Linked DNA regions of Homo sapiens: regions 1 and 3 are each linked to region 2. The links come from fine-mapping of genetic effects on gene expression. A gene starts in region 2. Each other region holds a variant in brackets. All regions are shown on one strand. Distances are between the middles of the regions. Region 1 overlaps OLFML2A (olfactomedin like 2A). Region 2 holds the start of OLFML2A (olfactomedin like 2A). Region 3 overlaps SCAI (suppressor of cancer cell invasion).

Evidence for each region. PIP is the estimated chance that this variant, and not a neighbour inherited with it, causes the effect. A credible set is the group of variants that fine-mapping cannot tell apart.
Region 1: its variant is the best candidate, but not a certain one, in a credible set for the expression of OLFML2A in pancreas (GTEx, PIP 0.84).
Region 3: its variant is the best candidate, but not a certain one, in a credible set for the expression of OLFML2A in amygdala (GTEx, PIP 0.53).

What each region holds. Positions count from the first base shown.
Region 1 is chr9:124,798,898-124,804,119 of GRCh38, forward strand. It overlaps OLFML2A (olfactomedin like 2A), which reads left to right. Exons shown (of 8, transcript NM_182487.4): 4 at 388-594; 5 at 2,517-2,766; 6 at 5,197-5,222. Among named protein-coding and RNA genes, the nearest start is that of OLFML2A, 24 kb to the left of the region's middle. RefSeq lists enhancers at 30-544, 545-1,058. The variant G/A (reference allele first, on the strand shown) is at 2,188.
Region 2 is chr9:124,775,073-124,780,294 of GRCh38, forward strand. It overlaps OLFML2A (olfactomedin like 2A), which reads left to right and starts at 2,061. Exons shown (of 8, transcript NM_182487.4): 1 at 2,061-2,288. The coding sequence starts at 2,199. RefSeq lists silencers at 1,965-2,064, 2,135-2,434.
Region 3 is chr9:124,946,532-124,951,753 of GRCh38, forward strand. SCAI (suppressor of cancer cell invasion) reads right to left here. Exons shown (of 18, transcript NM_001144877.3): 18 at 1-5,222. It also overlaps a transcript of GOLGA1 not described here. Among named protein-coding and RNA genes, the nearest start is that of GOLGA1, 8.1 kb to the left of the region's middle. RefSeq lists an enhancer at 3,853-3,902. The variant A/G (reference allele first, on the strand shown) is at 2,511.

The DNA of each region.
Region 1 (5,222 bases), 24 kb after region 2:
GGTAAAAATATGTGTGTATGTATACATGTGTTCCCGTAAATATACAGACTCTCTTTAGAAGGATATACAAGGAACCTATAATAACTGTTGGCACTGAGAAATAAAGGTGGGAGGGTGACTTTTTATAGCCGTTGATATCTTTTACATTTAGTACCATGCACATGTATTATCTATTTTTTTAATTCCTTCACTTTTTAAATTTAAAAAGTTCATAAACACAGGGTCTCTTGGAGCCTATTTTTCCTGCTCATGCTCACTGCGGCCGCCCCTAGCCCGTTCGGGGGACTGGGCAGCAAAGCCTAATGACCAAAGCTGGGGTGTCCCTCCAGGCTAGGGGTTCAGAGGAAGCTGGCCCAGGAAAGACCTCCAATCCTGCCCCCTCCGCAGAGCATCAAGGCCAACCTGAGCCGGGAGAATGAGGTGGTGAAGGACAGCGTGCGCCACCTCAGTGAGCAGTTGAGGCACTATGAGAATCACTCTGCCATCATGCTGGGCATCAAGAAGGAGCTGTCCCGCCTGGGCCTCCAGCTGCTGCAGAAGGATGCCGCCGCCGCCCCTGCCACCCCTGCCACGGGCACTGGTAGCAAGGCCCAGGTGAGGCCCCAGCTCTGATCATGGGGCCGGAGCTGGCTGAACTTGGGAGCTCAGTGTGCCAGGACGTTGGCCCTGTGGATCAGCTCGATGGGGGTTTGGGGCTGTAAGATGGGGTTGAGGACTGGCACAGCCAGAGAGTCCCTGGCAGGGTGAGGTGCAGGGGATACCTGCTGTACAGCAAGCACAGTCAGCACAGGGAATGGGGGATAGGCCTGGGGATCCTGCCAAGGGGGCTGGTCCCTAAGCCAGGTGTTTGGCATCCTTCTCATTCCCAAGCTTGAAACTAGTAGGGACAAGCTTGTGGAGGTGGTGCCCCCTGCCTGGCCCTCAGAGACCAGGTTGGCTGCAGCAAAACCACTTCTAGCCTCCCCTGCTGTGGCTGGGTTGAGCCTGCTCAGAGGGAGGTGGGCAATGCCTCAGGGACCCCTGCAGACTGATACCCATTCATCCAACCCACCCTGGGGTACAGAACCCCTGCAGCCAATACCCAGGCACTCGACCTCCAAGCTCAGAGCAGAGTGAGCAGAGGCACTGGTTCTGTCACTAGGCAGAGCCACCCATGACAGATAACACACCTGCGTGCAAATGTGATAAACGTCCTCTCTGTAGGCAGATGAACTGTGAAGCTGGTTCTCCCTCTGAGCAGATCAATTAGAAGGAACAACCACTTTTGGGTGAGCCGGTTGCACAGAGGCTCCTGCCTTTGCTGGGTATGTGGCTTGGCAAATGGAGTGCAGACTGGATTCAACCCCATTCAGGCTCCTCTGGCCAGTCACCCTTGGGCAAGACACAAGCCACACCATTGTTCACACTGGCCTTGTGTTTTGGTGAGTGGCTGAAGAAGGGAGCTGACATTTGTGGAATTCCTACTTTAAACTTGACTTTCTCACAGACATTGTCAGTGAACCCCATAGTCACCTGGGAGGAGGGGCGACCCCTGCCCATTTGGCAGATGAGGCATGGAGAGAGGTCACATGGAGAGGCGGTGGCGGAGCTGGGACTGGCAGCCAGGTCTGCGTGACTGCCAAGCCCACCCTCTTCCTCTCTTCTTCTCCACATCTCGGTCTCCTTTGCTGACATTGTGATAATGCGGCCATTTGTGTCTGCAACTGGGACTGCCTAGATGCCGATAAAGCAGCTAGGAAGCCTGTGCCTTGGCCCCCAGCTGGCTTCCTGCTCATTCCCGTGCCAATTCCGCAGGCGAGAATGAAGCGTGTTTTGGCAATGGTGCAGAAGGCACCCAGCTACTGTACTTGCCGTATCTGCTGGAGCTTCTGCCTAACGATGAGTGATGTCACAGGCCCTGTGTTCTTGTGCCAAGCCAGCATCGGAGGCATTTAAATAGGAAGTGAAAATAACAAAACACAAAAAGTTAGAAATGGCATATCCTAGAGGTTGGGTGACCAACCCTGTCCCAGTTTGCCTGGGACTTGAGGGTTTTTCCAGGATGCAGCACTTTCAGTGCTAAAACTAGGAATGTTCCAGGCACTCTGGGATGAGTTGGTCACCTTGCCTAGGTGCCTAAGAACCTCTCCCCTGCCCACGTACTAAGACCAATGAGTAAGAGAGACAAGGCTGGGAAGGTGAGCAGGT[G/A]GAGGAGGCTGCCTCCCAGGGAGCTGGTCCTTCTAGCCTGCCCCCCAGGGGGATTGGACAGGAGTTGAGAAGTGGGACAGGAATCTAACCTATCAGGTTGGACTTCAAGCCTGCAAGGGAGCTAAAGAGCTGGGTGAGGAAACTGAGGCAAACCAGTCATGGATGTAGCCACCATGGTGGGGTAAAGGAAAGCTGTGACTTTGTGAGTGCTTGGGACATAGGGCCTGGGGCAACATGGCCACCTCCAGTCCCCACATGCTGAGCCCCCAGGACTCCCCACAACATTTCTTCTACTGTCCTTCAAGTCTGAGACTTCTCTTCCCTCCCAGGACACAGCTAGAGGAAAAGGCAAGGACATCAGCAAGTATGGCAGTGTGCAGAAAAGCTTTGCAGACAGAGGCCTCCCAAAACCTCCCAAGGAGAAGCTGCTTCAGGTGGAGAAGCTGAGAAAGGAGAGCGGCAAGGGCAGTTTCCTCCAGCCCACAGCCAAGCCCCGCGCCCTGGCCCAGCAGCAGGCTGTGATCCGGGGCTTCACCTACTACAAGGCAGGCAAGCAGGAGGTGACCGAGGCGGTGGCAGGTGAGTAGGAGGGGAATGGGGACCCTGGGGAGTCAGGGATGGATGCCTCCTAGGAATCCCCTCATCTTCTCTGCAGTGGGACCACCCCAGATTCAGTTCCACCCATTGATTACCTGTTGGGTGCCCTCTGCTCATTCACATATGAGGATAACACCCCACTCAGGGGGTCATTGGGATGAGATGGCAGAACCAACCTGCAGGGCCACTCAGTGGCTTTTCAGTATTTACAGCTGTCTTCACCTTCACTGGACTTTTCTTTGTGCTTTTGAAAATGTGCTGAAGGTCCGCTCTGACCAGGTGACAGGGAATGGTAGAGACACAGTCCCTGTCCCCACAGATCTCACAGTCTAGTGAGAAAAAATACCTATGACCAGGCAGCTGCCACAGTGAGGGGCAGGAGAATACCGGGCTCCTGAGAAGTGACAAGGGCTTTCAGGGCATCTCTCATTTCCTCTCCAGCTCCTCCCTCTTCTTATATCCCCAAGGAAGAGCCCACAGACTCTTGTATTTTTCCTGCAGCTCTCTGCTGCATCACAGAGAAGGGTGACAAAGTAATTGGCAAACAAGAGACACACGTTTCAAGATACCCCAAATTTCTGAGCCATCTCTACGGGTTGTGGTTCTTGATTCCCCCACTAAGACCCGCCCCAGATGGCTGCTCTCTTCTGATGTCCCAGAGGGGTGTCCCAAACCTGCTCCTCCCCTTCCTAGGTCCTGCTGACCACCTCCTCCTGCAAAGCCCTCCTTCCAGCCCATGTGCAAGGGGCGCAAGGAGGTGAAACAGTCAGGGACCAGGCTCCTTTGAGAGCCCTCTTGTTTCTTGGCCTCTCAGGACTCAGGGGCCTCTTTACCCTGGTCCCAGCTGCTGGCCCAAGCCCTGCCAGCTTGGTCTGGACATGGCACAGAGCCTCTGACCCCTGGCTGGGGCACTGCCTAAGAACAGCTGCAGGCATCTGACTCTGCCAGCAAGGCCTGTGGGAACAGGCACCCTGCCCTGGCAGGCTGCTTAGGCCAGGCCTCCCTGTGGTCCTCCTCGACCAGGGGGATGACCCCCTTCCCCGCCAGGGCCCAGGCTGCCCACAGCAGGGCCTGTGCAAAGAGGAAGCCCAAAATGGAGAAAAAAGGAAGAAGTTATTGTCCTCAAGTCAAGGGTTCTCTGAGCCCCTCACCCAGCTGACCAGGAGGTCCCCTGGGCACCAGACCATCATAGTAATAACAGCACCATTCCTTTGTCTCCCTGGTGTCACAATTTTTTTTTTTTTGAGACAGAGTTTCGCTGTTGTCACCTAGGCAGTGGTGCAGCGGTGCAATCTCAGCTCACTGCACCCTCTGCCTCCTGGATTCAAGCAATTCTCTCGCCTCAGCCTCCCAAGTAGCTGGGATTACAGGCACGTGCCACCATGCCCGACTAATTTTTGTATTTTTAGTAGAGACGGGGTTTCGTCATGTTGGCCAAGCTGGTCTCGAACTCCTGACCTCAGGTGATCCATCCACTTTGGCCTCCCAAAGTGCTGGGATTACAGGCATGAGCCACCGCGCCCGGCCGGTGTCACAAAAGTGTAAAAGTGTTTCCCTAAACCCTTCCTTCCTTCCTTCCTTTCTTTCTTTTTTTCTTTTGAGACAGGGTCTCACTCTGTCACCCAGGTTGCAGTGTAGTGGCACGATCATGGCTCACTGCAGCCTTGACCTCCTGGGCTCAAGTGATCTTCCCTCCTCAGCCTCCCTAATAGCTGGGACTACAGGGGCCCATCACCACACCTGGCTAATTTTTTCTATTTTTTAGTAGAGACAGGGTTTTGCCATGTTGGCCAGGCTGGTCTTGAACTCCTGGGCTCAAGCGATCTGCCGGCCTCAGCCTCCCAAAATGCTGGGATTACAGGCACCAGCCACTGCGCCCAACCCTCTAAGCACTTTCGTTCATGCCGTCTCATTTGATTCTGGCAGCAGCTGCATTTTCCATGGCAGAATAATAGGAGAAGGCCTGTAAAACGGGAACAAGAGCTTCTCTCTAGAATTGAATCTAGCAAATGAGAGAACTGGTACAAAGTGCTTGATGCATAGGAAGGAAAGGGATCTCCTTTTTGGTACCTCGTATTTGCTGGGATCTGTGCAAATGTTTATGTACATTTTTCTGTAGTCAACACCACAGTCCAGCATGGTGGGCTCCTGACTCTCAGTTCACAGAGGTGGCCCAGGAAGGCAGGGGGACATGGCTGAGGCCACCTGGCTGGGTTTAGAGCCCTGGCTGTGAAGTCCTCCCTGCCTCCCATTTGGAGACCTTTCACCCCCCTCCAGGTGTGAGGAGGCCCTGAGGAGGCCTCCCCCTCCACTCCCTGAGGGCCCCTGAGATGGGGGCCCAGTGGACCTTAGGGAGACCCACACGGCAGCAGGTGGTGCTGAGATTTGAGCACAGGGGTCTTCTCTCTGCAGACAACACCCTCCAGGGCACTTCCTGG
Region 2 (5,222 bases):
TGGGCGTGGCGGCAGGCACCTGTAATCCCAGCTACTTGGGAGGCTGAGGCAGGAGAATTGCTTGAAGCCGGGAGGCGGACATTGCAGTGAGCCGAGATTGCGCCACTGCACTCCAGCCCGGGCGACAGTGCAAGACTCTGTCTCAAGAAAAAAAAAAAAAAAAAGAAGCAGCAGCAGCTTATTTGTACTCAGTGTGTGCTTTGCACAGGGTTCTTTAATTCAGCTGAGAGTTGTAGAGCACCGTACCTTGTGCCAGGTCAGTGGTTCTCAAACCCTAAGCCCCCTGGAGCCCTGGAGGGTGTGTTAAAACACAGATTGCTGGACTCCATGCCCAGAGTTTCTGATTTTGTGAGTCTGTAGTGGGGCCTAAGAATTTGCATTTCTTTTTCTTTTTTTTTTCTTTGAGAAGGTCTCGCTCTGTCACCCAGGCTGGAGTACAGTGTCACGATCTTGGCTCACTACAGCCTCTGCCTCCTGGGTTCAAGTGATTTTTGTGCCTCAGCCTCCCAAGTAGCTGGGACTACAGGCATGTGCCACCACGCCCAGCTAAGTTTTGTTTTTTGGGTTTGTTTGTTTGTTTTTGAGACAGAGTGTCACTCTTGCCCAGGCTGGAGTGCAGTGGTGCCATCTCGGCTCACTGCAACCTCTGCCTCCCGGGTTCACAAGCGATTCTCCTGCCCCAGCCTCCCGAGTAGCTGGGATTATAGGCATGCACCACCACATCAGCCTAATTTTTGTATTTTTAGTAGAGGCGAGTTTTCACCATGTTGCCCAGGCTGGGAGAGTTTGCATTTTTAACAAGTTATCCGATGATGCGGAGGCTGAGACCAAGGACCACACTTTGAGAACCACTGAGTTCAATGTTCATGGGGAGAAACTAAGAATGTGCCCTAGGAAGTCATGCTCCAACACAAGGAAACAAACACACCAACAAGAAAGACAGTCCCATTGAGCAATAAATTCTATGAAGAAAATGAGACCAAGCATGGTGGCTCACACTTGTAATCCCAACACTTTGAGAGACTAGGGTGGCTGGATTGCTTGAGCCCGGGAGTTTGAGAGCCTGGGCAACACAGAAGACCCCATCCCTAAAATAAATACAGAAATTAGCCAGCATGGTGGCACATGCCTGTAGTCCAAGTTATTCAGAAGGCTGAGGGAGGAGGATAGCTTGAGCTGGAAAGTTGACGATACAGTGAGCTGTATTCGCAACACAGCACTCCAGCCTGGGTGACAAAGGAAGACCCAGTCAAAAAAAAAAAAGGAAATGCTGGGTGCAGTGGCTCATGCCTGTAATCTCAACACTTTCGGAGGCCAAGGTGGGAGGATTGCTTGAGCCCAGAAGTTCAAGACCAGTCTAGGCAACAGAGTGAGACCCCGTCTCTGCAAAAAAAAAAAAAACTTTAAATTAGCCAGGTGTAGTGGTGCACACCTGTAGTTTCAGCTACTCAGGAGGCTGAGGTGGGAGGATCACTTGAGCTGGGAAGGTCAAGGCTGTAGTGAGCTGGGATCGCACCACTGCACTACGGCCTGGGCAACAGAGTGAGAAAAATAAAAATTTAAAAGCCGGAAGCTACTGGAGTTTGGGAGCCGACAGGAGGGATTCCAGAGGGAAGGAGAAATGAAAGACGGAAGACAGGTTGGGGTTGCTGAGCCTTGGGAAGGCTTACAGCAGTCAGGTCCCTGTCCAGAAGTGGGTGAAATCGGAGAGCGCAAGGGCTCACGTGCCCTGGGAACATCCGTCTCTCATGCGAACTTTACAAACACTCCAAAAGGAAAGCACGAGTCCCCCATCTTACAGATGAGGAAACTGAGGCACACAGGTGAAGGGACACGCCCAAGGTCCCACGACTCACAGGACAGGACCTGAGTCCGTGAGAGGAGCCCACGCGCCTCGCCCTGGCCCCGTTGCTCCTGCCGGCTGCGATCGAGACCCACCCTGGCGCGCGGGCAGGGATGCCCTTGGGAGAGCCGCCCGACGACGGGGAGGCCCCGCGAACGGCGGGCGGGGCGGGGCGGGGTGCCCCCTCCGCCCTAGCTCCGCCCCTGGCGGCGCTGGAAGACCCGCGGGGCTGGCAGCAGGGTGCAGGCGCGGGGCGCGGGGCAGGCAGAGCGGGCGAAGGCGCGGAGCTCGCAGTGCAGCCCGCGCTTCCCAGCGTCCGTGCCCGGCCGCCTGTGCCTACCGTGCCCGTGGCGCCATGGCCGCTGCCGCCCTCCCGCCCCGGCCGCTGCTCCTTCTGCCGCTAGTGCTGCTGCTGAGCGGCCGCCCCACGCGCGCCGACAGTAAGGTACGCACGCCCCTCGGACCCGCGCGGCTCGGCGGGTAGCGGGGCGCGAGGGGGCGCTGTGGCTGGGGTGCGGCCCGGGAGGGAGCCCGGGGCCAGGGCGGAGGAGCCGGGAGCTGAGAGACCGAACCTGGGACTTCTCAGCACTGAAGCCGCAGGGGCAGGGGCCCCGAGAGAGGGGCGCGTGGAGGAACAAGCGCTGGAGATGTAGGGATGCTAGGGACCCGGGGCCTGAGGAAGGGGCGCTGGGACCGGGTCCGATTCCCGGAGGGGTCGGGGGATTTCCCCGGAGTGCTGGCCAGACTCGGGGTTCGTAGGGGAAGCTCCTGGCAACTGTTACCCAACGACTCCCAGGCTTGCAGCAAGCCCTGGGCCACGGCTTTCACGGCCCGCTGGGGACTGGGGGTCTTCTCTACCCGATGAACGCAGCCGCGCTGGCCACTCGCCTGGCCTCTGATGTTCTTGCCAGGGACCGGGTGCACCCCCTGGAGGACTAGGTAGCTCCAGAAGTGGTCTGAGCTGTTCTCTGCTGTGGCTAAGAGGATCTGCTCTGGTGTCAAGCCGACCTGGGTTCAGTCGCACATCCGCTTCTCATCCGCCATCGCCCATCTGAGCCTCCGTCTATTCACCTGTAGATACAGGGAGAATCATGGGACCCACTTCCTGCAGTTGATGGTCTCTAGATGCGGTGTGGTCATGCCTGTAAAGTACTTAGCACTAGGCCGGGCGCGGTGGCTCACGCCTGTAATCCCAGCACTTTGGGAGGCCGAGACGGGCGGATCACAAGGTCAGGAGATCGAGACCATCCTGGCTAACACGGTGAAACCCCGTCTCTACTAAAAATACAAAAAAAAGTAGCCAGGCATGGTGGTGGGCGCCTGTAGTCCCAGCTACTCCGGAAGCTGAGGTAGGAGAATGGCGTGAACCCGGGAGGCGGAGCTTGCAGTGAGCCGAGATCGCGCCACTGCACTCCAGCCTGGGCGACAGAGCGAGACTCCGTGTCAAAAAAAAAAAGAAAAAAAAAAAATACTTAGCACCAGAGCACTTGGGGTGTTCTGGAAATGACTCCCTGATGGCCAGGTTCAGTGGCTCACACCTGTAATCCTAGCACTTTGGGAGGCCAAGGCAGGTGGATCGCTTGAGGCCAGGAGTTCAGGACCAGCCTGGCCAATATGGTGAAACCCCATCTCTACTAAAAATACAAAAATTAGCTGGGCGCAGTGGCACAAGACCAGTCTAGGCAACAGAGTGAGACCCCGTCTCTATAAAAAAAAAAAAAATTAAATTAAATTAGCCAGGTGTGGTGGTGCACACCTGTAATCCCAGCTACTCGGGAGGCTGAAGCAGGAGAATCGCTTGAACCCAGCAGGCGGAGGTTGCAGTCAGTGGAGATTGCGCCAGTGCACTCCAACCTGGGGAACAGAGCAAGATTGTGTCTTAAAACAAAACAAAACAAACAAAAAAAAAAACGGACAGACCTTGGGGAGAGTGAGGAGCAGGACCAGAGCCCTGGTCACAGAGCGTGAGGGCAAAAAAGTGACTTCCAATACCTCTCCAGCCTCTTTCCTGGTAGAATGTGAGTGTCCTGCCTGCCCACGGACAGATAAAAGACAGAAGCCACTAGCCACACGGTGAGTATATGAGCAGTGGGCACTGGCCAACTCTCAGCCTGATTCAGCTCAGGGCATGAAAGCACCCACGTACAACGCTGCTCATGTACTCCAGAGACAAGGAGGGAATGAGTATTTTTTCTAATTTACAGGTGGGGAAACTAGGGTGTTTACAGAGGCAGCTGGCTTGTACATTTAAAACCCTAGGTTCTGGCCTTCCTCTGCTATTCTTCTGCTGTGTGACCTTGGGCAAATCACTGCCTGTCTCTGGGCTTCAGTTTCTTCATCTAAGAAACATCTCCCCAACCTTCCTTCCATATGGGGCCCTCTGGGATTCCCTGATCTGGCTCAGGTATGATGACAAGTGAGTAGAAAATCCTAGGTAACCTGATCAGTGCCTTGTCACCACTGGGATCTCTGGCTGGGAGGGATATTTGGTGTTGGGCATCGTCTGTGCAGAGAGCTGTAGAGCTTGTGGGGGAGAGCTCACATTCTAAACAAAGCAGAGACAAAGAAAACCCAACACCCTGTTTGTGTAGTGAGTCAGCCAAACACTTGCTAGGTTGTGTGTGTGTGTGGTGGGGGGGGGGTGTTTAGCTGTCCCAGGACAAGCTGGGGCTGGTGGGGTGGAGAGGCACAACCTAGAGCTTGCAGGATGAACAGCTGGGGGACTCAGCACAGCCCTCCCCCAGACACCTCCCACCCCCAAACCACTTCAGCCAGCTGGGAAAAATAAAAATCAAGTGATGGGTGAATTTACTCTGCATTCCTTAGCTGAGCCAGACTCCTGCTGGCTCTGCAGAGAGAGCTGTTTTCATTATCACTCGCTCCTTCCCCCATCACAACCCCGCCTTCCTCTCCAAGCCCATTCCGTTTTCCCTGGGGTGGAGGATGAGCCCTTCGGAGGGCCAGCCTGGGACTTGAAGTCAATGTAGGGCCCTAAAGGGTTAAGTTGGCCCCTCCTTGGGCTTCCTGTTCCTGGGAGCTCTAGTCTGCCCTCTGGCCCAGCACATTCAGGGGTCCAGGGCAGCTCACCCCAGGACTCTGTTGGTCTCCTTGGCCAGCTCCTTGCTCAACGTGTTTTCATTTCATGTTTATAACTAGGTCTCTCCTAAACTGGATTTTGAGTTTCCATCTAAGGAAGTGCTTTGTCGGGGCTGGGAGGAGGAGGGGGACCCCACAGCTTCCCTGGTATTTCTGAAGGGCTGCCCAGCACAGAGGTTGGAATGGACAGGTAACCACATGACACCCAGGCATAGCACCGCAGACCTCTGGGGAGCTGCTTCTTGCTGTGGGTTCTTGGAATGTGACTGAGAATTTTCCATCT
Region 3 (5,222 bases), 170 kb after region 2:
CTGCAGTGAATGTATTTAAGTGTATATTAAACATCTCCTACACTCTTTCATGCAAATAAATATGTCAACTGAAGTAACCAAACATTGATACTTGGCAACATTCTATAGGTTCACAAATTGGCATTGCACGTATTTACTATCCTCTTATCCTCCCCAACCCTATCATCCTTGGGAGAGGTTTGAAGGCCCAGATTTTTATAGCACACCATGCATCTAATATTAAAAACTCTACTTCATGTGCGAATATATCATCAACTTGCAGAACACAAGTGGTCTCATAGAGACACAGCAATACGAGTGAAGGCATTTTATTCAGTGGAAGCATTTTCTCAGATGAGCCTACTCACCTTTGATATGCAAGTCCAGTAAGAAAAAATCTGTAGCCGGAAATGCCAAGACAGGACTAAATTAATCATAGCTGCTGCAAATATACAAATTAACAACCTCCCGTTCCTCACTAAATCCTATCCTACTTAGGTTAGGCCATCCCTTAGCTAATGCCCCCTTTTCTGCCTCATAGAGACACATAAAACACTGATGAAAAAAGAATTGTTCCAAAATCAAAATTCAGTATGAGGCATAAAAATGACAACTGGGAATATATTTCCCCTATTTAATGGACATTTTCCTATGTTTTTAAATGTGATTAAAGCAATTTTTTTCCACAGCCTCTCTATTAAGCCCCAATATACATAATTTACTACTCAGTAATAATACTTAAATATGGATCAAGAAAATAAAGGACTACTACAGCCTAAGAATCTGCTGGTGTCTCAGTTTCACATACTTAGGTTTTTCAGGTTATATCACTAATTTATCATCAGTTTAAATAAAAATTTGCAGGTGATTTTAAAGCTAAGAATAAATATCTAGCTTTCTGTTAAGATCTTCATATCCTAATTTCAACTCCAAATTAGCCCATTTTATCCAAACACAAGCCTCTCAAAATAGAGGCTTATGAATGAGATACAGCCACAACCTAATTACAGCAGCATGAACAATGCCACTAGGATGTCCTCACAGAACTTAAATAAATTCAGCCCACAATGGGTATGGGTACATAATATACACATACTGTATCACTGCATACCAATATATTTACAAATATGTATACATATATACAAAAAGTATACACAGAGATTGCATGTAGCATCACAAAAATATACATATGCCATTACAAATAAAATAAGAATTTCAAATAAATAAGGTCAACAAAAGAGCCCTCAAGGTAAATACCCTCTATGATTTCCAAACACACACAGGAACATATACACCCAAAACATCACCAGGAGACTCATAGCATTCATATTCATATCAAATCTTTTACTCAGGGTGGGGAGGTGGTTTTGAATCACTGGCAATGGCCAAATTAGCAGACCTTGGTACCTGACTATATTTCCAGTCCAGAGTGTTCTCTGTATATCAGGCTGATTACAAGTCTCCATAAATAAAATTTTTCAGCTGGGTCCAAACTGCTTCTCAGAGACAGAAAGTTACTATATCACACATGTCAGAGATTAAACTTGGAGGAGAGTGCTAAAGAAAGCTCCATAATACCTAATACATAAATCCGATTTGTCGCTTTTCCCATTATCCTGACTAAATCAGTATAATTACGACATAATCTGTTTCAGGGAATTCTATTGCACAAAGGAAATAAAGGGCAGTAGCCAGAAGTTGGAGGGGAGGGAACCACCCGGATCCTCTATCAGGAAAACTCCAGCCACAATTGGATTGCACTTTGCTTCTGAAATCCTGAAACGTTTCAATTTGGTAAAAATAAAGAGGGTACAATAAATTCTGTGCTTTGAAAGGTTTGAGAGCACCACTTTCTAAGAGAAACACACACATGCAAATGAAGAATACATCCTGGCTAGAATAAAAGATAAAATGTCAGATTTGTGGATTTTTACAATAAAAATTTGATACTGTTTTGTGCCAAAATACAAATCCCTAATTATTCTTTCTTGTTCATTATAGAAAGCAGTCTGAGCTACTGAGAAGACTGGGCTGAGATGAGGAGATCTGAGTTTTAGTTCTAGCTCTATCACTATGAATAGCTTTTTGGGTCTCAGCTTTCTCTTCTGTAAAATAGAGAAGATAGTTGCTTTACCAACTTCAGAAATATACAGATAAAGAAAGAGAAAATTCCACTGTGCTTCATTTTGTTTTGTGTATAACTGACTTCTTGCAGTCTTATGCTTTCTATGTTGTTTACAGTGATAGTTAAGAGAGATGAGAGACTATCAGAATCTCCAGGGACAGTTTGTGCAATTTGAAAACAAAGGAGTGCTTTTTCCCTTTGCTTTGCTCTGTTCTTAGTTCCAATATTTAAATTTTTATGAATTATAAAATTAAATACATTAGGGTTTAAATTTTTTTATAAAGGGCAGGTGGTATGCATTTTTAAAAAATGAAATTCTTTGCCACTATCATCAGCTCAAGCCCATTGGGCAACTGTCCTTTTAGATAATTCTTCTCCCTTGATTAAAGAAATACAGAAGCTGGGT[A/G]AGGTACAAGGAGGATTTATTAAACTGTATGTTTAGGCTGGGCGTGGTGGCTCATGCCTGTAATCCCAGCACTTTGGGAGGCCGAGGCCAACGGATCACCTCAAATCAGGAGTTCGAGACCAGCCTGACCAACATGGTGAAACCCCATCTCAAAACACAAAATTAGCTGGGTGTGGTGGCACATGCCTGTAATCCCAGCTACTGGGGAGGCTGAGGCAGGAGAATCACTTGAAACTGGAAGGTGGAGGTTGCAGTGAGCTGAGATCCTGCCACCACACTGCAGCCTGAGTAACAAGAGTGAAACTCCGTCTCAAAAACAAAAAACAAAAAAACTATGTTTAAAACTTTCATAAAAAGAAAGAAAAGGCAAAGTGTTCATGCAAATGTGACCTTCCTAATGAAGCCTACCCTGATCATCACTTTTTCTTTTCTTTTTTTCCAGAGACGAGGTCTTGCTTTGCCATCCAGGCTGGAGTGCAGTGGTGCAATCACAGCTCACTGCAGCCACAAACTCCTGGGCTCAAGTGACCCTCCCACCTCGGCCTCCCAGGTAGCTGGGACTAATAGGGTCATGCCACCATGCCCTGCTTGATCACTCTTTTAAACATTGTTCTTCTCTTAAGAAAACAAACAAAAGATTTACCTTACCATAATCTACACTTTTCCATCCTACTTAACATTTTCTAACATAAATTACTTATGTTTATTGCCTTACTCCTTCTACTAGAATGTAAGCTTCATGAACATGAGGATTTTTAAGTCTATTTTGTTTGCTTCCCCAATGCCCAGAAGAAAATCTGGAGTATAGTCTTTGTTTAATACGCATTTTTTTGAAGGCATCAATGAAACAATAACATTTTCCAGCACAGTTTTCCTCTCTTTGAAGATTCAAGATCACTTCAGTCCACTTTAGATTTTTAACTACCAGTAAGGAATTACACTATTAGCTTAAGGGGCAACATCATAAGGGTCAATGTTGTGATTTCTAAGACCCTCATTTTTAGACAAGCATGTTTCTAATCATAAAAGCTCTAATTTCCTCAGGAGAGTCTCTGTCTGTACTAGTTTCTAAAACAGCTAAGTGGGACCCAGATTTTCTTGAACAAAATCTAGGTAAATATGACTTACAAAAGAAAAGGTTGTGTACACTACAAACAGGGTAAATAGTTCTCTTGGTGGTTGGAGTGGGGAAATCAATATTTTTGGAACCAAGAGTCCAAATTACAGAATCAGAGTTGGAGAAGACCTGGGCCAACCTCTTCATTTTACAGATGAGAGTGCTAACAAGCAGAGACATGAAGACAGTTGTCAAAGGGCATAACGCTTAAGTTACCAGGAAAGCCAGGACTAGAACTTAGGTCTCCTAGTTCTCAGACCAGTGTTCTTTATGCTTAACGGGGGAGGATAAAGCTCAGAACAGTAAATACTATTTTAAACATTAGAGGACAGGAAACTCTGTGTTGGTAGGAGCATAACTGGCACAGGACTTAAGGGGAATTGAAACAAGAGGTCAGAAAACCGAAGATAGTCTATTGCTGTAGTTCAATGAACACTGTTACTAAAGGAAAGCTATGAAGTTTATTAAGATACTGAAAAAAAAGGAAAGCAGTCTTTACCTGAAAATGAAAACCCACTAGCAAAGGAAATCTTTCCAGGGTAACTTTTCCCAAGCTTTCTGAAATACTGTTTGAAAGAACAAACAAAAAAATTTTTAAAAAGTAAACAGGCCAGGTACAGTGGCTCACACCTGTAATCCTAGCACTTTGGGAGGTTGAGGCAGGAGGATCACTTGAGCCCAGGAGTTTGAGGCCAGCCTGCTCAACAAAGTGAGACCATGTCTCTACAAAAAATTAAAAAATAAAGAAAATTAGCCAGGCATGGTGGCGCATGCCTGTAGTCCCAGCTACTTGGGAGGCTGAGGTGAGAAGATTGCCTGAATCCAGGAATTTGAGGCTGCAGTGAGCCATGAATGTACCGCTGCACCCCAACCTGGGCAACAAAGCAAGACTCTGTCTCTTAAAAAAAAAAAAAAAAAAAAGTAAAATACTCCCCAAGTCCCCAAACCCCAAAAACAGTAACTTTGGACTTCAGGTTTGAAAAATCAGCAAATCAAAGCAGGAATGGGAATAACTTAGACCCAAATTAGTCTCTATGCCAGAAATGAAAACCAAGTTAAAAATAATAGCCAGGTGCGGTGGCTCACGCCTGTAATCCCAGCACTTTGGGAGGCTGAGGCAGGCAGATCACAAGGTCAGGAGTTTGAGACCAGCCTGACCAACATGGTGAAACCCCGTCTCTACTAAAAATACAAAAATTAGCCAGGCATGGTGGCGGGCACCTGTAATCCCAGCTACTCGGGAGGCTGAGGCAGGAAAATTGCTTGAACCTGGGAGGCGGAGGTTGCAGTGAGCCGAGATAGCCCCACTGCACTCCAACCTGGGCAACAAAAGCAAGACTCTGTTTCAAAAAAAATAAATAAATTTAGAGTATAATTTACCTAGGGCCATGGGAAAGAGATATCAAAAGCAATCAGCTCACTTCTCCTGGGACTGCCAGATGTGATCCTGTACAGAAAATTAGGTATAAGGCCTTCTCATTCATAGATTTCTGAAATTGAATGCTGCATAATCAAAAAGGAGGGAGGACTTCATAGCAAGTGACTGTGAAATTATAAAGGGAATGACAGGGAAGGAAAACACAAAAAAGAAAAAT